5 linked regions of the Homo sapiens genome follow. The protein of the gene in region 3 purifies or fractionates together with the protein of the main gene of each other region. This does not show direct contact. Each region holds a gene or a part of one and is shown on either strand. Other genes may lie near its edges. The genes, in order: OLFM4, RFC4, EVPL, SLC25A17 and PKP2.

Evidence for each region.
Region 1: the proteins of EVPL (region 3) and OLFM4 purify together in Homo sapiens (co-immunoprecipitation; one large-scale study listed by IntAct). This does not show direct contact.
Region 2: the proteins of EVPL (region 3) and RFC4 purify together in Homo sapiens (co-immunoprecipitation; one large-scale study listed by IntAct). This does not show direct contact.
Region 4: the proteins of EVPL (region 3) and SLC25A17 fractionate together in Homo sapiens (co-fractionation; one large-scale study listed by BioGRID). This does not show direct contact.
Region 5: the proteins of EVPL (region 3) and PKP2 purify together in Homo sapiens (co-immunoprecipitation; one large-scale study listed by IntAct). This does not show direct contact.

Annotation. Positions count from the first base shown.
Region 1 is NC_000013.11:53,041,020-53,047,528, reverse strand, and holds part of OLFM4 (olfactomedin-4 precursor), read right to left. Parts: intron 5,620-6,509; coding exon 5,407-5,619; intron 4,425-5,406; coding exon 4,265-4,424; intron 1-4,264. UniProt on the Homo sapiens protein: May promote proliferation of pancreatic cancer cells by favoring the transition from the S to G2/M phase. In myeloid leukemic cell lines, inhibits cell growth and induces cell differentiation and apoptosis.
Region 2 is NC_000003.12:186,795,118-186,801,626, forward strand, and holds part of RFC4 (replication factor C subunit 4), read right to left. Parts: intron 6,079-6,509; coding exon 6,000-6,078; intron 2,498-5,999; coding exon 2,418-2,497; intron 1-2,417. UniProt on the Homo sapiens protein: Subunit of the replication factor C (RFC) complex which acts during elongation of primed DNA templates by DNA polymerases delta and epsilon, and is necessary for ATP-dependent loading of proliferating cell nuclear antigen (PCNA) onto primed DNA.
Region 3 is NC_000017.11:76,019,941-76,026,449, forward strand, and holds part of EVPL (envoplakin), read right to left. Parts: intron 4,181-6,509; coding exon 4,081-4,180; intron 3,715-4,080; coding exon 3,560-3,714; intron 3,479-3,559; coding exon 3,352-3,478; intron 2,599-3,351; coding exon 2,473-2,598; intron 2,288-2,472; coding exon 2,249-2,287; intron 2,089-2,248; coding exon 1,927-2,088; intron 1,842-1,926; coding exon 1,734-1,841; intron 1,624-1,733; coding exon 1,528-1,623; intron 1-1,527. UniProt on the Homo sapiens protein: Component of the cornified envelope of keratinocytes. May link the cornified envelope to desmosomes and intermediate filaments.
Region 4 is NC_000022.11:40,768,774-40,774,390, forward strand, and holds the end of SLC25A17 (peroxisomal membrane protein PMP34), read right to left. Parts: intron 5,247-5,617; coding exon 5,164-5,246; intron 2,209-5,163; coding exon 2,061-2,208; 3' UTR 857-2,060; downstream 1-856.
Region 5 is NC_000012.12:32,874,397-32,880,905, forward strand, and holds part of PKP2 (plakophilin-2), read right to left. Parts: intron 4,637-6,509; coding exon 4,524-4,636; intron 4,148-4,523; coding exon 3,450-4,147; intron 1-3,449. UniProt on the Homo sapiens protein: A component of desmosome cell-cell junctions which are required for positive regulation of cellular adhesion.

The sequences.
Region 1 (6,509 bases), on a different chromosome or scaffold from region 3:
GATAAAGGGCTATTTTTAGGGCCCCGGCTGTGGTAGAAAGGAAGTGGAAATGGGGATGAGAACTCAACATTGCTGCCAATGCTACAAATGTGGCCACAACAATGTCAGACCAGGAAAAATGCTATGGCGGGCTTCCTCGACTCCTGGCAGCAAACCATCTTGGACACGATACTGAAACTGACAGCCAGTCCAGTGCCCACTGTTCCTCAGAGTCCCCATCCCCCCATCCCATCTTCACTGAGCTTCTCACCACCCTCCCTTATCTCATGCTCCTTGCCAGCCCCTTCCTTCATGTCAAGGTCTTAGACATACTTCATTCCATACTTCATACCCAGTTTCCATCCCAATTTCACCCTGACACTTGGGCAACAGCCCATTGCCCAATCATGATCCAAGAATTCTGAAAGACCATTGAATCATTTTGCATTTTCTGGTGGAAGAGAACACACAGCACAGAACTGTCAGGAGCAACAGTACCCTTTTACCTACTCCACTACCAAGGAAGCAAAAATAATTTGGTGTTAAGCAGATAGGTGAGTTGTTGGAATTTTCTTTTCACTCCAGAAATCACAGGTGCACCTCTCTGTTAGAGCAGCTATGGAAGGCAGCCTAGTATGGAAAATACTACTAGACAGATTCTAATTCAAAGCCTGATTCCAACAGTAGTTGTGTATCCTTGAGCAAGTTACTTAACCTTCTGAGCCTCAGTTTCCTCATGTCAGAAGAAAAATAATACCAACTCTGCAAAATAGTTACGAAAAATACAGAGAAGACATGTAAATGTTACTCAGTAAATGGTAAATATCTCAATATAATCACATCATGTTACAACTGGAGGTTTAGATGTCTCATTTCCTAGATAGTGGCTTCTGGAGGTTTCTTTACTCATGCTGGTAACCCCAGTACCCAGAACAGGGCCAGCCACACAGTGGCACCAAATTATGTTTGTGGAATAAAGGAATGAAAGATTAATCAAGTCACCTAAACTCAGCTTACCCTTATTTATAAAACACTAGCCTTCTACCCTGCTACATATCTGGTTTTTCAAAAAGCCTGGCATTTACTCCATGGAACATAATTTGAGGAACCCTCTATAGAAGTTTAGCCTTGGTTGGCACTCTCTTCATCATGCAATTCATTAGATGGCACCATGGTACTCTGAAAATACCTGAGGAAGCCATAATCATGAGAATTTAAAATATTCTGACTTGGCTTTTTAAAAGTATCATGGTTAGTAGCATTTTTTTGAAGCCAATAATTATATGCCTACAGAGGAAAATTAGTCTTGGATCTATTAATGCACTCTCTCAACTGGGCAACTGAACTTTGTTTGAGCCAGGAGGAGAATATGATTGACTTATAAGAATTAGGCAATTAAAACAATCATAGTCATAAAATGATTAAGACTAAATTGACTCTGAAGTGTTGGATATATGCTGTTCAACATGTGGCTCTTCCCTAAGCTTGAGATTTTAGCAGGTCACCCCATTTCTTTCAGACCCCATTTAATCATCAGCTACTTACTGAGCATCACTATGGACCAGCACAGAACCTTGCATCCCCAAGCAAACTGGAGATCAACCCCTGAGCACCCGATCACATTTGGCCTATATACAGTCATTTAGATTCACAGGCAAAACAGAGACAGACTGAAGTTTTAAGGGAAAAAAGTTAATGAGTAGAAGGCCAATTATTTTAGATTAGAAAGTTCTATGAAATGAGGCAGAAAAAGGACGTTGTTTGTAGCAAAAACCAAATAGGAAGCATATTTTATTGAACCTGGGATACATTCACTTGTTCTAAGTTCAAGCTGACCACTGGGTCAGCAAACTGTAGCTATAAGGGAGGGGGCCCAGAGAGCGCAGAGTTACTTTAGAGCTGAGACTTGCATATAGTCTTTTTTATTCTGTGCAACTCTGCAGTGAAAAAAGCAGACAGGCCAGATTTTAAAGTCCCATAATAGAGAATAACTTTAATTAAAGTCTCCACAGGCTCACAAGTTTGTGGTGCTTGGGGATTTTCCAATTCTGCATTATCAACCAATCCAAACAGAAAGAGAGCAAGTGAAAGAAATTGATTTAAAAACATGACCAAAAGTCAGTTTAATATAAACATCATAAATATAATATGAACAAAGCTGGAAGAGAGCCAAGTGGCTTGGCAGGGATTCAGGTACAGCCAAGGTTGTGGGAAAGTGAGTAAAAATCTGGGTCCAATTTGCTTAAACAACACAGCTGGGCTAGGATGGATCACAGAAGTCTAAGTGTGAGGGCCTAGGGGAAAGTTCTGGGAAAAAAAAAATCCAACAAAAACAACCCAACAGGCTCACTTGTTTTCTTCCCTGGATACTAAGCAATGCATTTTCTCCCCACCGTTGTCCTTGGATTACTGCTGCCTGACACCTTCGGTCCTGAACTGACCAGGGAGCAAAGACCCTTGCCTTGCAGCTTCTGCTCTGTCATTAACTACTTGTGTGGCCTCAGGAAAAGCAGCGTTCTTACCATCCACGTCTTCTCCTCTGAGACAAGACGAGGCTAAGTTAGATGGCCCTGAATATTCCTTCATCTAAAATGTCCTCATTCTAAGGGATGCATAGAAAATTGTGCCAGAAAAATCTATTCCATGAGGAGGATTTGCAAGGGGTGTTGGGGAGCTCGTTCAGGGATTATCAGGAGTTGTCATTGCTTCAGCCTCTGCCTCAGTGAGTCCTCTGTGGTCCACCAGAAACAGCTCTCATTTGCTACATTTTTGCACCACTAATCCCAGACTAAATTTAGCCTTAGTTTATTACAGAGGACAGACCATGTTGTCTGCCCTAAACCTCCTATGCAGGATGCGAAATTTGAACAGTTGTTCAAATTTATGTCACCTCCTTTCTGGAGAAGTTGAAAGGCCATTTCATTCTGGGGCAGGATTCTAACCATTAGATGACACCTGTCATAGTAGGACACACTCCTATTTGCAGAGGGAGGAAAAAAATCCACCTGAAGAAGACCAAGAGGCTTATATCTATGGCTATACCTATTTAATAATTGAAGCCTTAAAAAATCAGTTACAATGACAATAATCCAGAAACACAGTCTAAAAGAAAGCAGGTGTGAGGATTGGAATTCATAAAAATAAAAGGATTGCATGATTTGATGAAAAGATACAGTCCCCACTCAGGCTAAGATGCTCAGGACCTGCAGAGAGAAGGTCCCTGTGTCATTGATATCTCTAAAGGATGGGGCTGAACACTGTGGCTGAGAGGCTTTAGTTTACCTGAAGGAATGCATTGCAGGGCACAGTAATCTGGCACTGCTTTTGTTTTGCTGCAAGGCTTTCGCTTCAATTATCAACATTATTAACAATATCCATTGCCAGCGTGTGAGTGCCGATCATAAGGTTCCGAGCTTCCCAAGCACTGACTCATTAATCCCCACAGCCACCCTGCAAGGCAGGCACTATTATTCTCCCATTTTACAAATGAGGATATTAAGGATCCTTTTTGCTGCAGCCACCTAGCTGAGAAGCTCAGGTCTTTGGAATTCTAAAGCTATGTTCTTGTACCCTACACTCCACTGCCTCTGTTCATGGGTATATTTGCAGAACACCCACCTCTGTGCTGTACTTAACCCCAATGAGAATTCATTAAAGACGAACATGCCACCCCTACTCCAAGAACTCACAATCCATGAGGAATGGCAAGACACACCCACAAGCACATGATATGTGGGGTCATTCCTTTAATCCTCACTGAATCTCAGGACACACAATATAGCAGGTGCTCAGCATGCATTTATAGGAAGAAAAAAGAAAAAATTAAAGAGAAACAGAAGGAGAGAGAGAAGATGGCAGCATCAAAGGCATAAACCCAGCTCATCAGATAAGTGAGCCAATCAGTCCTTAACTCCACAGGAAAGTGGATGCCACACACAGATTCCAGAGGCTTTCCCCTGAGGCCCCTGATAGGGCCTCCATCACCATAGAGATTTTTGTTCCCTGTTAGAAAATGCAAAGAGAATACGTGTAACTCGTGGATTTTGCTTTAAATCAACTCATTGTTTGTGCTCTTCCTCTTTGAAACCCAGAATATGATAGCATGTAGAATACTTGGGAGGAAGGGAATTTTAAAACATGGAAGAGAAAACTGAGAACTGAAAAAAAAAAAAAAAAAACAACCCACCTTCTTCTTTCACCATTGCAATCCCCAATCCCTTCCCCACCCCACTCACAGCTCCTTATGGGGTCTGGCACAAGTGGTTAAAAAAACTGGCATGCTTACCTGGAGTGGGAGGAGGGTGGACGACAGGGGTGTTTTGATCTTTAGAGGCCTCACACTCTTTCAGCTTGGTCTTCAGAGCCACGATTTCTCGGCGAATGGCAAGGACATTGTTTTTGTCTAGTGTCTCAAGCTTCTCTACCAAGAGAGTCATATTTCTTATCTAAGGAAATAAAAATTCAGAGTGACTTTATATTATGGTGCAATTTCTTTCATAAACATTCCAGGGCTGAATTTGTCATTTAGTGAAACATTGCCAGAGAATACACCAGAGATTCTTCTGAATGGTTTCATTTGGAAGAATACATTTTATGGTTTAGCATGAATGCCTGTCAGATCTCAGGCAGATGTGTGTGACAAGAAGAAAATGGCAAAGATTTTAATAGCTTTAATAATAGAGCCCAAGCTCATCCTCAGCATCCACAAATGTCCATTAAAGTTCATTTCTAATAACCTTCCCCTATAAACTTGTGTTTACTCATGTTGTATTATAATTAAGATTCTAATGAATGGTGAGGGCCAGAGAAAGCTTAAATTCTAAAATACGTAACTAGAATTCTCAATTATAGCCCATGTCATGACTGTGCTAGTAAATTTTTGTTGATATAAATTACCCAACCATAACGTTAATGTGATGGTCTTTATCCACAGATCTTAAAAGGCTTTACAGAAATATACAAGAAATTTCTTAAAGGGGGTTTCCAGTTTGCAGAGAAGGATTCCAGGTTATTCAAAAGGAGAAACAAACCTAGCAATTTTACCACAATCAGGTATATTGTGGATTTCTAGTTCCATGAGGATAAATCTAGAGCAGAGAAGACACCTCATATAGCTTGGCCATGAACCGTTGTTCAACTTTATGCCAGCTCCTTTTCAGAGAAGTTGAAAGGGCATTTTATTCTGGGGCAGGATTCTGACCATTAGACAACATCTGCTCCTAAGTCAGCACATTCCCAATGTGCTTAACTTACTATTCAAACACATGCCCTTATCCAAAACAGAACATAGTGATATGCCATGTGGCCATGAGACAGTAGAGAATTAGAAGTTGGAAGAGATAGTTTCACTTCCTGGTACTAGTACTTGCTTACAGTCACTGAAGGGAGTTTATTATTAATTTACCAAGAAGTGAGTTCACTCCTTACCTCCACCTCCAGCTGGTCAACAATTTCTGAGCTTCCACCAAAACTCTCCTTCAGCTGTATGACCAGTTTTTCCATCTCCTTCACTTCTACCTTGATCAGCTCGAAGTCCAGTTCAGTGTAAGAAATGGTATCCTTCTCCATGATGTCAATTCGGACAGTTAGGTTTAACAGTTTCTTTTCATACACACTAATTAATTGGACATATTCCCTCACCTGAAAGAAAATCAAAAGGTTCAAGCCAATTCCCTGAGTAGTATCACACCATCTTCTTCCACTACCGAGCCCTTGAGTTGAGAACTATTTGATTCTTGCCAATCATTGTGTTTTGTAAATAAATAGATCAAAAATACATTTAACTAGATTTTTAAAATCTATCCATATACAAAGAACTTATTACTCCAATTGAAGGGAGGTAGATTTTATACTTTGCTAGGCTAAACATAATTTTGCTTCAGCATCATCATTTGCAGGTATATTTTAATCTCCATTTTTTAAAAAGGTTTTAGGCTCAGGGGTATATACCCAGGTTTGTTATATAGGTAAACTCATGTCATGGGGGTTTGTTGTAAAGGTTATTTTGTCTCGCAGGTACTAAACCTAGCACCCAATAGATTTTTTTGTTGTTGTTCCTCTCCCTCCTTTCACCCTCCACCCTCAAGTACGCTTCTGTTGTTCTCCTCTTTGTGTCCATGTGTTCTCATCATTTAGCTCTCATTTATATGTGAGAACATGTGGTATTTGGTTTTCTGTTCTTGTGTTAATTTGCTTCGGAGAATGGCTTCCAGCTCTCTATCCATGTTCCTACAAAGAACATGATCTCATTCTTTCTTATGGTTGCAAAGTATTCCATGGTGTATATGGCCCATATTTTCTTTATCCAGTGTACCATTGATGAGCATTTAGGTTGATTTCATGTCTTTGCTATTGTGAATAGTACTGCAATGTACACACACGCCCATGTATCTTTATGGTAGAACAATTTATATTCCTTTGGGCATATACCCAGTAAAGGGATTGCTAGGTTGAATAATAGTTCTTTTTAGTTCTTCGAGTCACCACACTGCTTTCCACAATGGCTGAACTAATTTACACTCCCACCAACA
Region 2 (6,509 bases), on a different chromosome or scaffold from region 3:
CCTTAGCTTCCCAACTAGCTGGGACTATAGGCACATGCCATCACACCTGGCTAATTTTGTTTACTTTTTGTAGAGGCAGGGACTCATTATGTGGCCAGGCTGGTCTCAGGTGATCCTTCCACCTTGGCCTCCCAAAATGTTGGGATTACAGGTGTGAGGCACCACACCTGGCCCCACATATAAAATTTTAAATCGATTTTCCACTTTGCATTTATAATAAGTATCTTGGCATATTATCAAAACCACTGTAAATAACATTTTAATAGTCATATGATATTCCATCCTATGACTGTACCATCATTTACTTCACATTCTTCTATTGTTAGACATCTAGATAGTTTTAAATACTGTAATTTTAAATAATGTTATAATATAGCACATTTTAAATTATTTCCGGCCGGATGTGGTGGCTCATGCCTGTAATCCCAGCACTTTGGGAGGCCGAGGCGGGTGGATCACGAGGTCAGGAGTTCGAGACCAGCCTGACCAACGTGGTGAAACCCTGTCTCTACTAAAAATACAAAAATTAGCTGGGCGTGGTTACAGGCACCTGTAGTGCCAGCTACTCAGGAGGCTGAGGCAGGAGGATTGCTTGAACCCGGGATGTGGAGGTTGCAGTGAGCCGAGATCGCACCACTGCACTCCAGCCTGGGCAATAGAGCGAGACACTGTCTCAAAAATAAATAAATAAACAAATAAATAAATAAATTCCACAGGGTAGTTTGCTATAAGGAAACCTACTGGATTAAGGAAAATTAATGGATTAAAACATGAGCAGGTTTTTAAAGTGAGTTTTAATAAAAATTACTAAAAGTAATATATGCTTACTGTAGAGAAATTTGAGAAATCAAAAGAAAAAAGTGGGCACACTGTCAAAGCACTGTTTTTGAAACTTCCCTCTAGTCTTTTACACACACACACACACACACACACACACATTTAAATAAAAAACAAGAGTTGTGATTTAGTTTCATCTCTATTTTTCCTAATCAGCATGGTATCCTAAGCATGTTTATGGACATAAACATTTACATGCATCTATTTTCTATTTTAAAGCCACAATATTAAATATGAAATTCACTGTTAAAGTAAGTTCTTTAAAGACAAACATTATTTCATAAAGGATATAGAAAAAGTTGTATAATCTGGACTGACCTACTCTAAGTAATAATAAACAACTGTTAAGGCTGATTCAGATTGGTTCTATCTGATTGAGTTGTGGAATAATCAAAAAAGTTCTTCTATAATTTTACTGAGAATAAAAAATTGCTGTCAAATAAAATATTAGGCACATAGCAGCTTCTCCCTTTGTCTTTTACATTTTGACATAACTAATAATCCTTACACATTTGGTGATTTCAGTGGCGTCTTTTTTTTTTTGAGACGGAGTCTCGCTCTGTCACCCAGGCTGGAGTGCAGTGGCGTGATCTCGGCTCACTGCAACCTCTGCCTCCCAGGTTCAAGTGATTCTCCTGCCTCAGCCTGCCGAGTAGCTGGGACTACAGGTGCATGCCACCATGCCTGGCAAATTTTTGTATTTTTAGTAGAGATGGGGTTTCACCATGTTGGCCAGGCTGGTTTCGAACTCCTCACCCCAGGTGATCCACCTGCCTCGGCCTCCCAAAGTGCTGGGATTACAGATGTGAGCCACCACACCCAGCCTATTTTCATATGTAGGATTTCAGATATTTCTATCAGTTGTATGTCTGATATTAATTCTGGATAAACTCAAAACAGCCTTTGTTATGTTGGTGCATGTTTCATGTATATCAGACCCAGCCCACTACACATCTTTTAACTCTAGGTAAAGGGCTCCTCTAGAATGGCTGGTTAAGCCAAGATGGTCAATCTAGGAAGAGGAACATAAGAAGGTGACTCACAGGAAGATTTTCTGGTGTACCTGGAATCACACTACATCAACCATCACTTGTGCTCAGGAGACCTGAGGCAAGGAGCTGGACTGGCCACTCCAGAGTCAGAGCCTAGGAAGTCCAGAGCAGGACTCAAGAATGGATGGTGCAAATAGTGCCATCAGAAACAGCAGATTCTATCATGTAGCCACACAGATGTGAACACAATCATTAAGAGGGTGATAAAACTATCAGCACAACTGGACATTAAGTTGGGCCCTCTGGACTCCAAAGTTATAATGGAAAATTTAAAGAAAGTGATGGAAAAAATCATAGGCTCCCCACACTTGAACAAGATTCACAATGAAGGTCACAAAAGACGCAGGCAAGCTGATTTCTTCAGGGGAGTGAGGGAGGAACAAAATGGCTCATGGGATTTTTAAAAATCAGAAATAGAAAACTATCCTACAGAAAACGAAACGCAAATTTTTAGAGGAAAAAAAGCAATATCAGAGAATTTTGGTGTCAAATCTTTAAAAAAAGAAAAACAGACTGATTTCAACGTACCCAAAGAGTTCTCTAGCTGCTGCCAAAATAGTGGATGTTTTTCCAGTTCCAGGTGGTCCGTAAAACAAGAGATTAGGAAGCTGTAGAAATTAAATTTTATTTTTAATAAATGGTATTCTGGCACAAATAGATGAAAAGGAAGATCGAAAAAAATGTCTGTGGAATAGTGCAATGACTTCTCTAATAGGGCACGTAATTTCTAAGTATAAAGTTTTCTTAATATAACTGATATCATAGTACTGACAGATTTAAATCCTGCTTTTTCATATACTACCACTTTTTTCCCCAAGTGTCTTTTTAATCTCTTAAGCTGAACCAATATTTATGCTTGCTCTATAGCTAATCCACTTAGGTGAAATTTTCAAAGCTGGAATGAGAAACCTTTTATTTCTAAAGGGAATCTCAGTTTCCTATCCCACCTCTATGCTCAAGATTAGGTAAGATTTTATATTACACAAAATGTCAGCTGCTTCAAAGGGGAAGCAGACCAAAAGAGTAATGGGATTTGGCCAAAACTGAGGAAAAAGGACTAAAAAAGACATAATTAGGGCTTTGGATGAGCAGAAGTACCAAGAACAGAAATATTAACAAAAAATCCAAAACTAGATATATATTAAGTACTAGGCACTGCTCCACATCATGATTATGCACTCTGTAAGGATGCTTGCATGTATCAGGGAGAATTCATTAGAAGAGGAAAGGATAAAATTAAATCACTAGCTACCTTCTTTTATACCTTGTATCTAGCTAGTTTGGCTCCTATCAAGCAGTCGACTGATCCGTGGTGAAAATTAATAAGTCAACTAAATTCTAATGAGCTCTGTTATGATACTGTGCAATCTTCAGTATGTCCTGTCACATAAGGAAATCAGTGTACACAGGAAACTAGGCATTAGAGTTTGTTTCCACTCTTGCCTAACCCTCCCTCTTCCTGTCCATTCATTCTTCACCTAAATCAGATACCACTCTGCTTGCTACTTAAAACTATTCCACTTAGAAAAACAAAAACAAACCAAAAAACCCTCAGCTTTTTACCATGGCCTAAAGGACTTCCATGATCTGCCTACCACCTCCTTCACCTTCCAGGCTCTAGCTTACAATGGCTTCTAACAGCTTGGCACTTTCTGGCCCGAACATATGTTGCTCCCATGACCTGGAGTCTGATCCTCTTCTTTCTGCCTGGCCAACTCCTAATGCATTACAAATCAGAAACCATTCAGTCTAAAGTAGGTCTCCTCTCCTATTCTCTCATTAGTGTTTGTTGCATTTTGCATTGGTTTATTGTTATTTCACTGTGGGGCTTAATTGTAAAATGCCTGTCTACTTCATTAAAAGACCAAGAACCTTATTTGTTCTATTCACATCTGTATTCTAGCATCTACTACAGTAGTCAATGTTGGCCAAATGAATGAATAAACCAATACATAGACAAATATGTTAATTAGAAGACTATTACTGTTACATTCATAACATATAGCTTACAGAACAAACTATGAGATTCATAACTTAAAAACCTCCCAGGCTTCTTAGTAATTAAGGTCTACAACTATTATTTTGATCTGTGCATCCCTTAACAATGTAACGATTCATCCAGGTTAACTATCAGATACAATAATTTAAATTCTTTGAAACAGGGTAAAATTATTAAACCTTAATTATACACTAGTCTAATATATGTAGTACATTCAAGAACTGTATGTGGAATACCAGTTCTTAAAATCAATTTCTGAAAAAATTATCTTCTTATAATTCTTTAAAACCTTTCAAAATAAATTGAATGAATTGTTTTCCTTTACTCTTTTGAATTAAAAAAACTATTTCACCTCTTTACAAAACTTAGTCTGAAAAGGTGCACAAAATATTAAACTGAAGTTCTTACTTCAGCCTCATAAATTACGTGGCATAAAGTCAAGAACTAGATCTTAGGCTGGGCATGATGGCTCATGCCTGTAATCCCAGCATTTTAGGTGGCCAAAGCGGGCAGGTCACTTGACATGGCTAAACACCATCTCTACTAAAAATACAAAAATGAGCTGTGTGTGGTGGTGCATGCCTGTAGTCCCAGCTACTTGGGAGGCTGAGGTGGGAGGATCACTTGAGCCTGGGAGGCGGAGGTTGCAGTGAGCTGGTATCACGCCACTGCACTCCAGCCTGCGTGACAGAGCAAGACTCTGTCTCAATTACAAAAAAAAACAAAAAAACAAAAGAACTGGATCTTAATCTCACTACATTTGCTGAAGATACTAGTAATTAAATTAGATATTGTCCTGCAATCTGTGTAATTACTATGCAACTGCAATTAAAATGGTATATACTGTTACCAAGATATGCAAGCAGAATATACCAAAAAATAAAATGCTATACTATTATAAAATTAAAAGGTATAAGAGTATTTGTGTTATTTATTTTTTATTACTTATTTATTTATTTATTTTTGAGACCAGAGTCTCACTCTGTCACCCAGGCTGGAGTACAGTGGCACAATCTTGGCTCACTGCAACCCCTCCGCCTCCCAGGTTCAAATGATTCTCCCGCTTTAGCCTCCTGAGTAGCTGGGACTACAGGTGTGTGCCACCACGCCTGGCTACTTTTTCTAATTTTTGGTAGAGATGGGGTTTCACCATGTTGGCCAGGCTGGTCTTGAACTCCTGACCTCAAGTGATCTTCCCATCTCAGCCTCCCGAAACGCTAGGATTACAGGCGTGAGCCACTGTGGCCGGCCAAAAAGGTATAAGAGTATGCGAGTCAAATCAAAACACATACTGGTAAAGAAAAAGATTCTAAATAGTTTTATAAATTTAACTTCTTTCAAAATGTGTACTGTAGTAATATAATTTCAGCAAGGGAATGATGGCAGCAAAACCCAAAAGAACTTCTAATTAAAAGCAGCCAGATTGAGAGGAAGGAAGCAAATCTTGAAACTAAAGCAAAAACCACATCCCACTTCAGCACTTTACTGAGCTGTTAAAGCACTTTGGGCATTCATCATAACACAACTTTAAGTTGCTAATTTTTCACATGGGTTTATCTTATCTCAGAATAATTTACAATGCAAGTTATCCATGGATACTTTATCCCCCAGATCACAGCAGAAGAGAGAGCTATAAGCAGAATTCAAAGCTCGATTTTTTTTTTGTATTATAGGTCAATCCAAATCCTAAAGTTAGTAAGCAATTATACTTTAGAGGAATCTCTGGCTCTTCTTTATAGCACATATTACTACCTATAATTATTTATTGGTTTACTTGTTTATTCTATCTTTCCTTACCAATAAAAACCCATGAAAAAAGGGGCATAGTTTGTCTTGTTCTATGTTTTATGTCTTGTTCTATGTCTATGTTTCATAGTTTGTCTTAATTACTATGACTTTTACTTGAATACTAGGTAACACTGCTATGTAAGATTAAATAGGAGATGCTCAATAAATATTTGAACTAATTATCATTGTACAAATAGTTATCAAGGACCTACTGTACACAGAGCAAGATATTTAACGAGGGCTAGAAGTTATAAAGGAAGAAAGAGGGTGAATAAATTAAGTCTTAAATATCCCAATGACATTAAACACCATTTGCAACTCACATCTGCTCCTTCTAAAGATTTTTTCAGCACTGCAACCACTTCTTCCTGGAAAGCAACTTCATCCACACATTTTGGGCGACTTGCGGGGTGAGAAGGAGGAAAGAGGTTATTTAGTATATTATAGTAGCCACAGAAAACTCTCAAGTGTTCCTTCTACTAAAATACCAATGACCATTCTTAAACATCAGCAATGAAATGAGAAACTTTTTCATAATCGGAAATAGGTGGAAACCCCACTTGTTTTTACCGTAACCAAACACATTCTGAAAGAGTGAAATAATGTTTTACTTCCTTTCTGCATTGCTCGAATCTGTTATACCCACAAAAATTAAAGAAAAAGGATTTTATTTTATATGCTACAAACACTAATTAGAAATTAAAGTGGGGGATTAAGACCATCCTGGCTAACACAGTGAAACCCCGTCTCTACTAAAAACACAAAAAATTAGCCAGGCGTGGTGGTGAGCGCCTGTAGTCCCAGCTACTTGGGAGGCTGAGGCAGGAGAACGG
Region 3 (6,509 bases):
CCAGCTAAACACAAACCACCTAAACCGAAACCAGCTAAACCTAAACCAGCCAAACACAAACCAGATAAACCTAAACCAGCTAAACCTAAACCAGCTAAACACAAACCAGATAAACTTAAACCAGATAAACCTAAACCAGCTAAACCTAAACCAGCTAAACACAAACCAGATAAACTTAAACCAGATAAACCTAAACCAGCTAAACACAAACCAGATAAACTTAAACCAGATAAACCTAAACCAGCTAAACTTAAACCAGCTAAACCTAAACTGTCACTCTCCCCTACTCTGGTCGGTCTTTCTTTTTCCTACCCAGGCGGCAGGACCTTTTATCACTGGTGTGCTCTTGCAAATGGGGTCTTATTTGTGCACTGAACTTAATTTTTTTAAGTGGGTCATAAAACACTTGGTCTTCGTCCTTCCTGCACAAATGAAGGGCACCGTCACCTGCCTCCCTCCAGCACCTGAAGTCTTTCTTGCTGGGACAGAGGGTATTGGAGCTGCACTTGTCCCAGCCCCGGAGAAGAAGCTGTGCTTTAAAGAAGCATTCCAGGTGCTTTGACGGAATTTTTGTCAACGTGTGTGATCACAGTCTTGTGGTTCTATAGGAAAATGTATGAAACATTATCTGCCCCCAAATCCCAGTTGCATATTATATCAGGGTTTCTCAACCGTTTTTTTTTTCATTATTATTCTCCTAAAGAGCCTTTTAAGAAATATTTTATTTAATTTCCCCCCACCTCATCCCCATAAAATTTTATTTATTTATTTATTTTGATAGAGATGTATCTATTTGTATAGAGACAGGGTCTTGCTATGTTGCCCAGGCTGGTCTGGAACTACTGGTGTCAAGCAATTCTCCTGGCTCGGCTTCCCAAAGTGCTGGAATTACAGATGTGAGCCACCACACCTGGCCCCCACGAAATTTTAATACCACAGATATGCTGTATACAGCTTAGGTGCTGTATGTGGATCTGGACTTCATGCATAAAAAGAGTTAAGATATTTTTCTGCCAGTAAGAACCAATTTTCACCCCCCTGGGAACCGCTTCACCCTGTTGAGAATGTGCCCATGCCTTTCTTTCCCTCTGGGACCGAGTGGCAACCACACAGCTCTATTTTATTTTATTTTTGAGGTGGAGTCTCTCTCTGTCACCCAGGCTGGAGTGCAGTGGACCAATCTCGGCCCACTGCAACCTCCGCCTCCTGGGTTCAAGCGATTCTCCTGCCTCAGCCTCCTGAGTAGCTCGGATTACAGGCGCGTGCCACCACATCTGGCTAATTTTGGTATTTTTAGTAGAGACAGGGTTTCACCATGTTGGCCAGGCTGATCTCGAACTCCTGACCTCAAGTGATCCACCAGCCTCGGCCTCCCAAAGTGCTGGGATTACAGGTGTGAGCCACCGCGCCCTGCCAGCTCTGTCTAGTTGGGAGGTGCAGTGCCTCTCCTGTGGGCAGGGGTGCTGTGCTCCCGCCCCTGCCGCCCCTGCCGCCCCTGCCGCCCCTGCCGCCTGCCCGAGGGCTCACCCGGCGGTAGTCCTCCACGTGCTGCAGCTGGGTCTCCTGGCAGATACACAGGTTCAGGAAGTTCTGCCACTCCATCTTCAGGGCCTCCTGGTGGGCCTGGGTACGGCAGCATGGAGCCCTCGGACCACGCCCCCCCCACGTCCGCCCCACCTCCCCCCTTCCCCGCCCACCACGTCCCTTCTCACTCTCGCCCTGCCCCAGCGCACCTGGATGGGCCCCACCGCGGGGTGCCGCAGCTCCACCATGCGCTCGCCGTCGTCCTCCAGCTGGTTCACGCTCTGCTCCTGGCTCAGCAGCTCGTGCTGCTTGAAGTGCTGGGGGCGAGTCGGGTGGGGAGCGGCGGTGAGGACCCGGATGGCCCTGGCCGCCCCCACCTGGCCCCGACCTCTGCCAGCCGACCTCGTACTCCCGCCGCACGCCCGCAGGGTCGGCCATGAGGTCGCTCCAGTCCTGCTGCAGGATGCGGCGCTGCTGCTCAGCCAGGGCGCTCAGCTGCCGCGTGCAGCCCTGGAGGTGCGTGTACAGGCTGCCCAGGCTCTGCCCGCGCCACGACGCCGCCTTCTGTGCTCAGGACCCGCCGCCAGCAGCAGGGTGGGGAGACAGAAAGTGGGGGGCAAAAGGCGCCATTGGGCCGCGCTCAGGAACACTGGCCCCGGGCAGGGTCCGGGCGGCCACCCAGGCCCACCCGCAGCCTCCCTGCCCGACCCTCCCTCCTGCTCACCAGTAGGTCTCGGTATTGGCTCCGGATGGTGGCTGCATCCTGCCTCGACCAAGGGGAGAAACAAGCCCGTGAGAGGTGGGGTGCAGGGAGACGGCCCCCTAAGATCTGGGCCAGCCATACCCCACCCACCCCTATCCCCAGGGCCCAGCCGATCTAGCTCCGGCTCTGACTGGAGAAACGGGCTGGGGCTGGCCCCGGATGTGACATCCTCCAGGCTCACCTACCGGCCCCACGAGGCTCCGCAGCTGCTGCCCATAGGCGTCGATCTCCTTCTGCAGGATGTTGTGCTCGGCGATCTGTTGCTCCAGCTCCGCCATGCCCGGCCCGTACTGGCCTGCGCAGACCTGCTTCTGCAGGAGAGCCGGCGGCTCAGTCCCCAAAGGACCGCGGTGGGGAGCCAGAGAACCCCACACGCCTCCCACCCGGAGAAGTGGACTTGGTCATTTGGGCAGAGCGTGGACGAGCCTGGGAGCAGCCCGGGTGCATGCCCTGCAGCTCCCCCAGGGGCGAGGCCATTCTGCAGTGGCCCCTGAGTCCCACTGGTTCCCAGACGCTGGGCTCAGCCTCTAAGAAGTCTCCAGCTCCATCCTGCCTTGTCTGTGACCCAGCCTCAGTGCTTCCTGCCTGGACACCACCAGCCAAGCTCTAGGGCCCTCAGAATGCCCTGCTCCAGCCGGGCCCTTCCCCACTGTCCCTCTATTGTCATGATGACACCCCTTCTGTGTGGCATCAAAGCACAACTCCTCAACCAGGGATCAGAATGTCCCATGACCTGGCTCTGCCCACCTGCCCAGAAATCCCCACTTCCCGTCGAAGCCCAGGCTTCCTCCTGGCAGGAACCTTTGCTCCTTCTTTCTGGAATTGTCCTCTCCTCACTACTTCACCCTGGCCCAACTGAGCCCTCTCACCCCTCTGAGGTCTCTTCATGTACCTCCTCCTGCAGGAAGTCTTCCCTGACTGCACTGTCTACTCTGCTGTCTCTCTGCCCAGACCCCTGAGCCACCCCTACACCCTGACTATTCAAGCCTGCAGTCAGGCCCTGGATTAAATGCAGTTCCGTATCGCCCTCTGATCACACTGGGGTGTGACTTTGAGTTCCTGACCTGTTTCTGCTCCAGCACGCGTGCCCAGTCGACCCTGGGTCCCACGTCGGGGGGCAGCACCATCTTCTCGTACAGGGCACGGTACTCCGCACACTCCTGGGTCACCCGCTCGTGCAGCTGCTTGATGCTGTCAAGAAGGTGGCCGGCAGGTCAGGGCTGGACCTGGGTCTTCCCCAGGGACCCCCAGCCCTGCCGCAGCTCCACTCACTCCTTCTCAATCTCCTCAGCCTGCGGGTGCTTGAGCCGCCGGGCCTTGTCCACGTCCAGGAAGAGGTCCTTGAGCAGCACCTCAGCCTCCTTCAGGCTGCGGCCCGTCTCCTGCTGGTGCTGCAGGGCCTGGCTCTGCTCACTGTTCAGCCGGTCCTGTGGGCAGGAGATGGGCAGACTGGCCAGGGCCCAGAGCCCCCACACCCCTGCTGCCCATCACTGTGGGCCTGAGCCCCAACTTTGGGACCCCAGCTATGCTAGCCAACCTTGAGGCCCACGCCAGGCACAGGGTCAGGACCAGGGCGTCCGTGGGGCAGGTGACAAGGACACAGGGGAGCCCAGAAAAGAAGGAAGCTGAGCCCTCTCTCCCACCGTGTGTTAGGGGATGGGCGGTGCAGGACAAAGGTCATCTGTCCCATCTTCACCATCACCAAGGGGCACTCAGGGAGTGCCAGGCCTGATGATGGGCCTCCCATGCCACCCAGCCTGTCCACGCCCTGCCAACTGCTGCCGGGGCCTCACCTGCTGCAGCCTCTTCTGCGTCTCCAGGATGTCCCGCTCCACCTGGTCGGCGTTGGCTTGCATGCGGGAGATGAGAAGGGCCAGCTCCTGGGTGGCAGCCCTAGTGTGTGGAGGGGACAGCGGGTAGCTCGGTGGAAGAGGCCCCTCTGTGCCCCATCCAGGTGGCATCCCCTGCCCTCCCTCCACCCCATCCTGCCCCCACAGCCTAGCTCACTGCCCTGACTTTGGGGTCTCTCTCTGCAGAAGGCTCTGTGAGCTAGTCCTGGTTGGGGGTGTTAGCACTGCCCCGCCACATGAGGGGTCAAAAGGTGAGGGTCTCAGGTTTGTGTGGTGCTGGGGAGGGGGCAGGCGGCCTCGGTGTCCCAGCCTTAGCCAGCTGTGCTGGCAGTGAGTTCCCGACCCCACCTAGCTACCTGCCACTTCCCTCCCCGAGCCAGTGAATCACCGGCTCAGCCACTAGCACCTGAGCCAGCCTGGCTGGGCCCTGGGAGGGGTAGTTGGGCTGGCTGGGGCAGGGAGGCAGCAGCATGTCCCCCATCCCCACCTCCTCGCACTCCAGCCCTGTGTTCCCCTATACCTCCTCCACCCCAGGGAGCCTTGCCAGCATGCTGGCTTCAGTAGCCATCTAGAGGAGCCTCACACTGTCGGAGCCGGGGAGGTGGGGCAGGCGCAAGAGACTACTGGGCACCCTAACATTCTCCAGAGTTGAGGGTTCAAAGCCCAGATTGGGCTCTGACTTGCTCTGAGTCACATGGTCAGGGGTGGAGGGGAAACCTTGCTTCCACCCCAGGGCTTTTTCTGTGCATTCGCCCTGCAGCCTCCATAGAGCACCTGCTGTGTGCATGCACTCACTGTGCGGAGGTCACAAGGTCAAGCAGACCTAAAAGAGGGCAGATTGGTCCAAGCCTTATGAGCACAGTGCCTTATGGGGGATCATTATGCTGGGGCAGGAGAAGCCTTGAACTGGGTCAAAGGATGGGCCCCCCCAGGCAAAGGGACAGTGCTGGTGAAGGCACAGCAGTCTGGAAGAACTCTGTGGCCAAGACACCCTGGTTTCATCTTTCTCCATCAGAAAGATGATGGACTTGACCTTGGTCAAGTTACTCAACCTCTCTGTGCCTGAGGTTCCTCACTTGTAAAGCGGGATTTTAATAAAAATATCTATGCCTTAGGGCTATTGTGAGCATTAATTGAATTTATCCATCTGAAACGTCCAGTGCAGGCCTGGTGCAGGGTCGGCACCCAGCACGTGTTAGTTTTTATCCCATTAGAGGGCTAGTGCCTTGAAGGCAGGGGCTTGTTGGTTCTGTCTACAGTGACATCTCCAGTGCCTAGAACAGTCCTGGCATACAGTAAGTGCTCAGTAAGTTCATGTCAAACGAGTGGATCGCACGTGAGGGGAGAGCCAACAGGGCCCTGAGGACGGAGCTGCCCCAGGCCAGGAGCGCACTGCTGGGGAGCCTGCCTGGACAGTGGGAGCTGCAGGTGCTGGGCCCTGGGCGCCCCTCCTCAGGTCCCGCCTCCTGGGATGGCTGCTCCCACCGGGAGCTGCACACTCCACCCTGGGTGGGGCTCAGGTGCCCCAGGGAGGACAGGTCACTCAGCGAGAGTGTTAGCTGAGAGTCTTAACCACTGTCTTTCCCGTCCGCCCAGACACCCAGCCTCGGTGTCTGTTGGTGCCTTGATCCCTATCGGGGTAATGGGCACCCCCACTCCCACACCAGCCTTTCATCCCTGAGGTCATCTCGACACCCTGGACCCAGGCGGGCTGCTGCCTCCTCTGCAGACGAGCTGAAGCCAGTGAGTGGGAAGAACACCGCCCAATCCATCCACAGATTGCTGAGGCTGGGCTCCAGAGAGCCGGGTGGTCCAAGGGAGGCCCAGTGCCCCCTGCACCACACCCACTGGAAAAGGAAGCCCCAGCTCTATTTTGTTTTAACAGACAGGGTCTTGCTCTGTCACCCAGGCTAGAGGGCAGTGGAGTGATCACGGCTCACTGCAGCCTCGACTTCCCGGGCTCAAGTGATCCTCTCACCTCAGCCTCCCAAGTAGCTCTGACTACAGGCATGCGCCACTACATCCAGATAATTTTTGTATATTTTTTGTAGAGACGGGATTTCATCATGTTGCCCAGGCTGGTCTCGAACTCCCGGGCTCAAGTGATCTACCCGCCTCGGCCTCCCAAAGTTGTAGGATTGCAGGCGTGAGGTATTGCGCCAGGATTTTTTTTTTTTTTTTTTTTAAGACAGAGTCTCAGTCTGTCACCCAGGCGGGAGCGCAGGGGTGTGATCATGGCTCACTGCAGCCTCAAACTCCTGGGCTCAAGCAATAGGCACGAGCCACCATGCCTGGCTATTTTTTATTTTTATTTTTTTACAGAAACAAGATCTCCCTATGTTGTCCAGGCTGGTCTCGAGCTCCTGGGCTCA
Region 4 (5,617 bases), on a different chromosome or scaffold from region 3:
GTTTCCTCAAACAACTTATTATTAACCAATGGTTATAAAACTAGGTGGGTTACTAACTAGTTTCAACTAGTGAGTTTGTAAATTTCCATAAGGAACATAACCCTCAATGTTAAATTGTTTCCTCATAAAATCAGAAAAAGAGAAGCATCAAATACATTCTCACATCATAAATACCTAATACAGCTATATAATTCGAACTGGAAATTATCCTAACAGACCAACTCACAATATTCTGAGCTCAAAATTCAAGTTCCAAAGGGAACGGCATAATTAAAACAATAATGAAAATACACATGACACCTTTATGATCATTTTTCTCCTATACAGAAATCAAAATAATTTTGTACTTCCCACTCAAGGTCTGCCACAGGCACACAAAAACCTTAAAGTAAAATTAAAAAATAGAAAAAACAATTCTGTCTTCAATTCTCTGACTTAAATAGGGGATGAATGTTCAGTCTTCTTCCCAGATTATTAGCTCCTGCTAATTTTTGTTTGCTAGAACAATGCAATGATCTTTAACAATCATATACTTTGAAATTACCACAGGGACTAAAGAGAGGAAATAAGAGAAGGAAATTTCCACTCTCAAAATTGAACTAAATCCTTAATAATGAAGTATTTCATTATTACTCTCTCTGACTAAATCATGGACTTACAAATGAAAAACCCGCCATTTTGTCATAGGGACAAAAAGGAAGTCATAGAAATCCAAAGAACCGCTCTGCTAATGTCAAGTGAATTTGCTTCCTGAGTGGGTCGAGATATCTAAATCCACTCCTGGCCGCATAATAAAAGCCTTACCACCTTAACAACGTGCTGTGAGGTGAAAGCAAAAGATGACATACGACTCCTAGATTTTTCAGAGGTTGTTTTAATACATTAATCTCTTTCCTTTGAGAAAAATCTTTATCTTGATGTCTATAATCGAAACCAATCACTTCTTCTCATGGGTCAGGGGTCCTATGGTCTCCTGAACTTTAATGTGGCTGTGAATCACCTGGGAATGTTAAAATACGGAACAGGATTCAGAAACTCTGGGTTGCGTGCCCAGCAAGCTCTCAGCTTGTGGCAGTACTACCGTCTGATGGACCACACTGAGCAACAGGACTCTAAGGAAGGTTTCCAAATGAAATAACCTCAACCAGATGTTTATTTTCAAAATATACGGCCTACACCAAGTTTATAAAGGGAGATAATATCCAGACCTCAACAAGATATCTGCTCCCCTTCTCATTTTTGTGATTTTTCCCATCTGGTTGCAAACTCAACGTAATACCTTAATAAAGAGCAATTTTCAAGAATATCTTTTTTGTGCTGACCATTTATTGGGACTTGACTGACCAGGGCTTGTAAGAATGGACACAAAACTTCAAGTCTTTCGTAATGAAAGGATTGATTCAAAATAAATATTCTAAAAATTATGTCAAACACTAATGAATAAGTGACATTTACAAATAGTTTATAAGAGAATCATTTGGGTGAACAATTTTCATTTCACAAAATAAATAGCTCATATCCAAAAAAGACACCTCTCCTTAAGCAGGGAAAAAAAAGCCCAACAAAAATAAAGTCATGCCCGTGGCACAGCCCTAATGTTAGTTTTAGGGAGGAAAACACCAACACTGAGACATACAAAAGTATTTGAGGAGAATTACATGTTATTAAATTTGTCCTAGAACCTGGGGGAGAGTTCAGGGAAAGAGAACAGCTGGTATATTTAAGAAAGATTTAAATAGAAAACATTACACATGAGAGCAAAATAGTCCATTTCTCTTAAGAAAACCAATAAACACTCACAAACTTTCATTTTTAGGTTTTCAGCAATGTTTTTTTCACATTAGTCCAACTGCCACCCCAAAATCCAACCAGCCAGCATGACAATTAAGGTGACAACAGGTCCAGTTGGCCATACTCCCTGTGCACCCTTGGATGCTTTTCAAGCCAATGAGGGTAACATTTGTGGTGGCAGGAGCCAGAGTCAAGGGAGAATCACTTCTCTTCACTCAGGAGGAAACCTCCCTCTTGAGCATCTTCGGAATTTTTCATGGGAAGGCGTCTCAGTGTTGGTGTGCACGCTTCAGCCCCATAACTGTGAAGGTGGCAGCTGTCAGTTTCTCATAAACAAGGAACATGAGAGCAGCAGTGAGGACTGTCTGCAGCAGTTTGGCTTCAAGGCCTTTGTAGAGTCCCATTATTCCAAAACGTCTAAAGGGAAAGAGGTTTGAAAAAACAGAAGTCAGCTCCTGCATCAGAGAACATGCTACCTAGATAGCTACTTTGATAAGAACAAGCAATAGAGGTTTTAGATTTCAACACAGACTTCTGTTGTCAAAGTACTTTCCTTTTTTTGAGACGGAGTCTCGCTCTGTCGCCCAGGCTGGAGTGCAGTGGCGCGATCTCGGCTCACTGCAAGCTCCGCCTCCCGAGTTCATGCCATTCTCCTGCCTCAGCCTCCCTAGCAGCTGGGACTAGAGGCACCCGCCACGACACCAGGCTAATTTTTTTTTGTATTTTTAGTGGAGATGGGGTTTCACCATGTTAGCCAGGATGGTCTCGATCCCCTGACCTCGTGATCTGCCCGCCTCAGCCTCCCAAAGTGCTGGGATTACAGGTGTGAGCCACCGTGCCAGGCCCTAGTTTTTGGTTCTTACAAATAATGTCTTAAATTTGGAAGCAAGCTACATGTCCATCAACAGATAAATGGATAAAGAAAATGTGGTACTTATACAAAATGCAGTACTATTCAGCCATCAAAAAGAATGAGAGTTTGTTGTTTGTAACAACATGGATGGAACTGGAGGTCATTCTGCTAAGTGAAACAAACCAGGCACAGAAAGACAAATATCGCATGTTCTCACTTATTTGAGGGACCTAAAAATCAAAACAATTGAACTCATGGAGATAAAGGTAGAAGGATGGTTACCAGAGACTACTGGGAAGAGTAGTGGCGGGGGGAAGGTGGGGATGGTTAATAGGTACAAAAATAGATAGTTTGAATAAGACCTAGTATTTGCTAGCACAACAGGTGACTATAGTCAATAATAATTTAATTGTACATTTAAAAATAACTAAAAGAGTATAATAGGACTGTTTGTAACAAAAAGAATAAATGTTTGAGAGGATAGATACCCCATTTTCCATGATGTGATTATTATGCTTTGCATGCCTGTATCAAAACATCTCACATACCTCAAAAATATATACCTACTATGTACCCACAAAAATCAAAAATTAAAAAATTAAAAAAAAAAAAACAAAGCCATTATTAACATTTGTATACAAGCTTTTGTGTAGACATATGCCTTCATTTCTCTTGGGTAAATACCCTGAAGTGGATGGCTGGGTCCTATAATAGGTGTGGTATATAAAAATTTTTAAAGAAAATGCCAAATTGCCTTCCAAAGCAGCTGTACCATTCTATATTCCCACCAGCAGCATAAGAAAGTAAGTTCTGGTTGCTCCAACATCCCTCCCAATACTTGATATAGTGAGTATTTATTTTTTACTTTATACATATTCTTTGTCTTTTATTTTATTTTATTTTTTGATAGAAGGTCTCACTCTGTTGCTCAGGCTAGAGTGCAGTGGCACAATCACAGCTCACTGCAGCCTCGACCTCCTGGGTTCAAGCAATCCTTCCACCTCAGCCTCCTGGGTAGCTGGGACTACAGGCAGGCACCAGGATGCCTAGCTAATTTTTTATTTGTGTAGAGACGGGGTCTCACTATGTTGCCCAGGCCAGTATCAAACTCCTGAGCTAAAGCGATCTGCCTGCCTTGGCCTCCTAAAGTGCTGGGATTATAGGTGTGAGCCACCACGCCCAGCCTAATTTTGTCTTTTAGTCCCTTGAATGTTCTTTTTTTTTTTTTATTTTTTTTATACAAGGTCTTGCCTCTTTAGCCCAGGCTGGAGTACAGTGGTGCCATCATAGCTCAGTACAGCCTCAATCTGCCGGGCTCAAGTGAATCTCCTGCTTCAGCCTCGTGTGTAGCTGTGATTACAGGTTTGTGCCACATGCTTGGCTAATTTTGTAAATATTTTTTGTAGAGACAGGGTCTCACTACTTTGCCCAGGCTGGTCTTGAACTCCTGGCCTCAAGCTATCCTCCTGTCTCAGCCTTCCAAAGTGTTGGGATTACAGGCATGAGCCACTTTGCCTGGCTGCATATTTTATTTTAATAATAAATTTATTTTCAAAGTATCTTGTATCTAGGAACAGTAATAAAGTTATAAGAGCTTTTGCTTCAAAGGAGGTCCCTGACTTATCTGACTTCACTAAGTGTCAGTTTCTTTAAATGAAACAGGAAATGACAATAGTTCTTAACTCACAGAGCTACTGTTAGGATTGACAAGGCTGGGCGCGGTGGCTCACACCTGTAATCCCAGCACTTTGGGAGGCTGAGAAGGGCAGATCACGAGGTCAGGAGATCAAGACCATCCTGGCAAACACAGTGAAACCCCATCTCTACTAAAAAATACAAAAAATGAGCCAGGCGTGGTGGCAGGCGCCTGTAGTCCCAGCTACTTGGGAGGCTGAGGCAGGAGAATGGTGTGAACCCAGGAGGCGGAGCTTGCCGTGAGCGGAGATAGCGCCACTGCACTCCAGCCCGGGCAACAGAGCGAGACTCTGTCTCCAAAAAAAAAAAAAAAAAAAAAAAGGATTGAGATTACCTATGTGTAGCCTCTAGGTCAGTGTCTGCCACATGGCAAACCACTGAAAATGTTAGCTACTCTTACCAACACCACCATCATCATTATCATCATCATCATCACTATTATCACTTTTTCCACTGCCCCCTCCCTTCTCCAGTACTCCTATTCTATAGGCAGATGTTATATTGCTAAGAGGCATCATAGGATATGCCACTGATGAAAGCACACTCAGGGTGACTGAAGTATAGAAGGGTTCTCTTTCTGAAGGAGTTCTGAATATTTGTAACTAACAAAGAATAAGAACCTGAACTTTTCCATAATTTCCCAAAATGCTGTCATACTGTACTAGGCTCCTAAAATGGGAAATGTCTAAGCACAGCAAGCAAGGGAAAGGTTTTGGAGGTTGCCACCACCAAGGCAGTAGTGTGAGAGAGGGAAATGCAACCCCTCCCTGGCAGAGATGGCTGCTGAAGGAGAGCACGGAATGTGAGGCATCTACAAAGCTCACCTTACTCGTTGGTGAAGAAGATAGAGAATATTCCGAAGACTTCCCAATGTTCTGTTTTCTGGGTTTAGTCTATGACGCCCAAACTGAGGAAAGAGGGAAAAAAAACAAAAGTACTGTTGCTGTTTTTTAAAATCTTCATTTTTACCTGGGGAGGATATTATGTTGGAGTAGTATCTTATAGCATACATTAATAAATTTATCCAATTAGTACCATAGATTTCATTAATCCTGTATTTTTCAACTGAGTGAAATATTTCAATCAAATAAGTGAAAATAAGAAAAATTTTTCCTTTTTTTTTTTTTTTGAGACATCTTCTCACTCTGTCACCCAGGCTGGAGTGCAATGGCACAATTTTGGCTCACTGCAACCTCCACCTCCCAGGTTCAAGTGATTCTCCTGCCTCAGCCTCCCGAGTAGTTGGGATTATAGACATGTACCACCACGCCCGGCTAA
Region 5 (6,509 bases), on a different chromosome or scaffold from region 3:
TTACACAAAATACGTCTGGCTCCCTCTCCTTTTCACAGAGAGCCAAATTTTCCTTTCATAATCAGAGAAAAAAAGTTGATTTCTATGATTTCTACTCTCTAGAATTTGGGGAAATCTCAGGAAGAGATTTCTTACTCATTATTTTTAAATTTCTTGACCCCAAGTGTTCCTTCTACTCTTGGAAATATGATTAAATATTATAATACAATTTACCCTGTCTATTAAAACAATAATCCAAAAATAGTATGACTAATACTTCTAGAATTTGAGCAACAAAAGAACCTAGATGGCAAAAAGTAAAATTTATATTTCATTTCTCCTTCCTTTAATTCCTTCACTCTTTCACCATATACTTATTTTTTGAAAGAAGATCTCATTCTGTTGCCCAGGCTGGGGTACAGTGGCACAATCACAGCTCACTGTAGCCTCAACCTCCCTGGCTCAAGCAATCCTCCCACTTCAGCCTCCGGAGTAGCTGGGACCACAGGTGGGCACTATCACGCCAGGCTAAGTTGTTTATCTTTAATAGAAGTGGGGTCTCGGGGTCTCCCTATTTTGCCCAAGCTGGTCTCAAACTCCTGGGCTCAAGCGATCCTCCAGCCTGGGCCTCCCAAAGTGCTAGGATTACAGATGTGAGCCACTGTGCTGGCCTCATCATATATTTATACAGTGCCTACTATAGGCCTACTTCCATTTTAGGGTGCTGAGAATATAAAGATGATTGAGCATTCACAAAAATCTCAAAGTCCAGAGGGAGAACAGATAAGCAAATGAATAGCCACAATATATTTTTCTGATAGAGACACTCACACAAGGCTGCTATCTGGGGCACCTAAGCTAGACTGGGAAGGAAGTGGTCAGAAAATAGGTGGTATCTGAGCTAAATCCAGAATTATAAGTAGTCAGACAAAAGTAGAGCTGCATATGTAAAGGTGTGGAGTGGGGGAAAAGAAGGAAAGAGAGAGAGAATGAATATGGATAAATATCTTGCATTAAGGAAAGTAAAGAGGTTCCAGGTGGTTTGGGTATTGGTATGTGGGTATGTTTGGGGATGGTGGTGATGAATGGCAGAGAAGAGTAGAAGGAGAAGAGGCTGAAGTGATAAGCAGAGCTGAAAACACAATGGGGCTTGTAGGTCATGCCTAAAAGCATGAACACTTAGTGGAATTATGGAAGGGTTATAAACAATCACATGTGGAAAGATAATTCTGACAGTCCTAGAGAACGGTTCTGACTGAGCAAGACCAGAGGCAGAGAGCCCTGTGTAATGGAAATGGAAAGAAGGGTAAAAATTCAAGACCCATCATAGAAGGAAAAATATGGCTTGGTGATAGGTGACTACAGAGGGAGAAGATAAGAATGACTTCCAGGTTTGAAAATAGTAGACTACAGCAGGAGGAGATGGGTGGAAGTTGAGGATAGGGAGATGATGAGTTTAGTTTAGGATATACTGAGTGTGAAATTTCCAGGAGGTTGTTACATTTTCATATAGGTCCAGAATTTGGCATCAAGGATGGAATTGCAGACAAAACTTTGAGAACCATAAGGATAAAAGTGAGGTACACAGAGCCTCTCTGGAAGAGCATCAAGACTTGGAATAGAAGGGTTACTGAAGATGCCTTCTTTGAGCAGGCAGAAAGGGAGCACGCAGAGAACACTAACAAAGAATGGCTGGAGAGGTGAGTGGAAAACCAGGGGAAGCTGGTGCCCTGAAAACCAAGGGATGAGAGAATTTCATGGTGTCTCAAACACCACCCACAGGTTGAGTAATATAAGCAGTGCTTATATTACTCAATATAGTGTCTGCTTAGGATGTAGCAGATAAGGCCATCATTGCTACATTTGTCAGGAGACTGTTTAGGTGGAATGGAGGGGACTGAAATCATATTGCAGTGGGTTGACGAGAGACTGGGAAGTGACAGGGTGGTTCAAGAAGCAAGGGACACAGAGATGGAGGGAGAGAATGCCAGTTGTTGGAGGATGTCAGATAATAATTTTGTTACTGTTAAAATCATTTTGCTAAAACTGTGGCTATCACAAATCCTAGGCTATGGTAGGCATTCCATAAATTTTGAATTACCTGTTTAAAAGCCTTTATCAGCTTTTTCCTCCATAAACAATGACCTGATACACTTTCTCTTTTTTTTTTTGAGACAAGGTCTCACTGTGTTCCCCAGGCTGGAGTGCAGTGGCACAAATCTTGGCTCACTGCAACCTCCATCTCCTGGGCTCAAGTAATCCTCCCGCCTCAGCCTCTCGAGTAGTTAGGACCACACGTGCACACAACCACACCCAGCTAATATTTGTATTGCTCGTAGATATGGGGTTTCATCATGTTGCCCAGGCTGGTCTTGAACTCCTAAACTCAAGTGATTCGCTCGCCTGGGCATCCCAAAGTGCTGGGATTACAGGCCTGGGCCACTGCTCCCGGCTTATTTTTCCTCTTTGTAAGTATGCTCATATTGCCTAAGGTCTGCTTACTATAAGAAATGTTAGAAATCTCATGGTGAATTTTACATCATAAAAAATATTTCCTGTGTTAAGATTAGATTAGCCCTCATCATTTTGAGAAGTAGTTTATTAATGATGCTACCTGGTCAGTGAGCATGCTGTACAATTTCACTTGAAGGGATGTTTAGAGGTAACAACTATCATTAGACAACTTTAGCAATCAAATGACAATAACATATCTAATGTTTTAGCCTAATGATGTTAGATCATTATTGCAGGAGTTACTGATCTAATCAGCCATCCATTTCTCAATCTTTCTCTTAGTAACGTGCACAGTTTATAAAATTTGTGATCAGGCATTAAACTTGAATAAGGGTTAAGTTCCAAACACTAAATTAGTCAAGCTATAAAGTAAATAGGAATGGAAAGGAATGACTTAAAAATTCAGTTATTTTAATAATTTAATACTGCCAAAAGAATACCCCTTCAAATCACTGACACTAGAAATCTAAAAGGTACCAAGTACCAAAGGAAGAAAAAAGACATCTAGAAGTCAGCCATCTTTCCTTAGCTCTTTTTACAGTCATAGTTATCCAAATGGCATTCGTGCTAAGAATAAGCATTTTTTCCTTTTATTTCATGGGATGATGAAGAAAATACGCATGCAATTCTCCAATTCTTGGCCTACTTTGGAGTTTAGAGCAGATTTTCATATGGCTGAGGGGTAGGGTCCCTTCAGCCAGCATCTAATCTGGAACAGATGGACTAAATGTCACATTTCCATACAAAGCTGCCATGTGAGCAGGTAGCTTGGCCCCTGTCCCTGAGGTAAATAGGCTGATCTGTCAATTAGGCAGCTGCCTGAAAAGTCATTATTTTAATCACTTATCTCTGGAAGCCCTTCTCTCAAGCCCCAGAAGTGCCAGCTCATGCTGTCAGGGCTGTGGGAACAGAATGTGCTGGCAATGACTGAACTGCAGAGTCAGGAGGGGACTTACCCCAGCTGGGAGTCAGTGAAAGTGCTTCTCTCAGTGAGCAGATTCCCACTTCCCCCTGCGGCCGCCTGGCCGACAGTCAAGTGCGCTCTCCTCCCGCTGGAATCCACGGCGACACTGGGCCCAGCTTCCCTCAGCGTGCGGGTGCTGTGGAAGGAGCTCTGATGCCAGGAGGACCTGGAAGCCCTGTTCTGAGTGACGGGCTGCAGGGGCACCAGCGGCCTGACCTGCCCGACAGTGAGCCCTGCCGTCAGGTAGTTCTCCTTCTCCAAGAGGTTGCCCATGCTGCGGCTGGTCCCTGGCCTGGGGTACGTGAGCAGGGCCGGGTTGGCAGGGATGCTGTCAAAAACGGTGTCGCTAACAGAGCCATGCTGGTACTGTCTGTGGTATGTGTCAAAGTGGCGCTGCCTGCTTGTGGTGCCAGCACGGCTGACCCCCACGATCTCGGAACGAGCATATCTCGGTGGCACTAGGAGGGCGGCCCGCCTGCTTTCTTGGTGGTGCAGGGTGTGCCCAGCCTGGCTTCTCTGGCTGTACTGGTAATCGCTGTGCGTGTAGTGAGCCCTCTCCGGGCTGCTGTCAGGAGAAATCTCCAGTCTCCTCAGAGGATGCCTCAAGGACCTTTCTTCCACGGACTTCTGGGAGCTGTACTGTGCTGTTCCTCTTCCCCAGCGACCTTCATAAGTGGCAGTTGTGCCAGCCTGCACATGAGAGAAATAAAGTTTAAAGGGGGCATAAATCAAATTTCAACTTTGCTGAGGACTAATTACTCTGGGACTATTACCCAACATGTCCGTTTCTCTGAATCAGATGACGAGAAGTTTGCCCCTTTCTGGGTAAAGGCTTTTTGAAAATAAGACTTGGTTGACTTGAGTCATATTTATTTGCACTAGGATGTAAGAATGTTTCACATCCCTAGTTTTCCATGGTATCCTCATAAATATCAATTTTCTCAAAACTCATTTAGGAAATGATAATACTTGGGAAAAGTAAACACTCAAAAATAATCTTAGGAAGTTTGAAAATATTTTCATGGTAGTAATCTGATCACTAGGGTTACATTCTTTGATATCCTACCTTTAGCATGTCATAGGTTTTAGGAACAGGGGAACGGCCTCCAACAAAATCATTTTCAACCAAGTGTAGGTTGTAGACATACTCAGGAACACTGCTGGTTCGGTGAAGATTTCCTGCAATCAAGCAAATATTAAAATAACTCAGAATACAAGTAGGCTAATTAATATTTACAGACTGTATAACAATGATGTATTAAACTTTTAAATTTAAGTAATGAAGGCCAAGAACAAGTATTAAACGTACGTTAATGTTTTTAAATGCTAGTTTCACACCACCCTGGGATATGGCAAGTGATCAAAGGTTATCAAAACATTCTCTACAAAAGTTTTTCAGCTGGGTGTGGTGGCGCACGCCTCTTATCCCAGCACTCTGGGAGGCAGAGGCAGGTGGATCACCTGAGGTCAGGAGTTCAAGACCAGCCTGGCCAACATGGCGAAACCCATCTCTACTAAACATACAAAAATTAGCTGGGCATAGTGGCGGGCATCTGTAATCCCAGCTACTCAGGAGGCTGAGGCAGGAGAATCACTTGAACTCGGGAGACAGAGGTTGCAGTGAGCCAAGATCACACAATTGCACTCCAGCCTGGGCAACAAAAGTGAAACTCTGTCTCAAAAAGAAAGTTTTGGCTGGGCACGGTGGCTTACACCTGTAATCCCAGAACTTTGAGAGGCAGAGGTGGGTGGATCACCCGAGGTCAGGCATTCAAGAGCAGCCTGGCCAACATGGTGAAAGCCCCTCTCTACTAAAACTACAAAAAATTAGCTGTGCGTGGTGGCAGGCACCTGTAATCCCAACTATTCGGGAGGCTGTGGCAGGAGAATCGCTTGAACCCAGGAGGTGGAGGTTGCAGTGAAGCTGAGATTGCGCCATTGCACTACAGCCTGAGCAACAAGAGTGAAACTCTGTCTCAAAAAAAAAAAAAAAAAGTTTTCAAAATGAAAGTTGAATTTAAAAAAAGAAAAAGAAGGGAGAGGAAATTCACAAAAATCTAAAAATGTTTGGTTGTTATAGTGCTGAAAAATTTGGGACTCATTGTCTGGTTTAGCTGGTCGAGACTATAAAATTCAGTTTCCCGAGTCACAGAACTCTGTTCCCAAGGCAGGAATTCGGAAGCTTCTTGTAATAAGCAGGTGTAGGCAATAAATATAATGGTGACTCAGCACTACTAGATAAGACAGCTTGTATAAACAACAGGATAGGCCGGGCGTGGTGGCTCACACCTGTAATCCCAGCACTTTGGGAGGCCGAGGTGGGCGGATCATGAGGTCAGGAGTTTGAGACCAGCCTGGCCAACATGGTGAAACCGGTCTCTCCTAAAAATACAAAAATTAGTCGGGGGTGGTGGTGGGCGCCTGTAATCCCAGCTACTCGGGAGGCTGAGGCAGGAGAATCGCTTGAACCCGGGAGGCAGAGGTTGCAGTGAGCCGAGATAGCGCCACTGCACTCCAGCCAGGGCGACAGAGCAAGACTCCTGTCTCAAAAAAACAAAAACAAAAGCAAGAAAAACAACAGGGTAGATCAGCATGATCAAGGGAAACATGGATCAACTTCAGGCCAATGCTGGGGTTGAGATATTTGGCAACAGGAGAGTTAGGCAGGAAAGGAAATCAACCTCTATGCTCCATCCAAATGGCTGCTTTTGTGGAATCACCTGGCCCCTCTTTTGTTTGGTGGTCTAATAGCCAGCCCACTCTCATGAAAACACAGACAGCAGCCAGCCCTTTGTGCTCAGCTCTGTGAAGCCTACAGGGATTCAACTGATGCCTGTCTCATATATCTTCACATACTCCTGTCTGAGGAGGGGGGAGTGGTGGAAAGCAGTATGTTGTGTCCCTCTTCTGCCTCCTTTATCCTTCTCTCAGCTTTTTTTGAGTTTTCTCTTACTGCCTTAAAAAAAGGCTAATCAAAATAATCAACAATCTCCAAAAGCCAAGTAATATCTACTTTCTTACATTTAACTGAAATTTTTTTCTGTCATGTAGC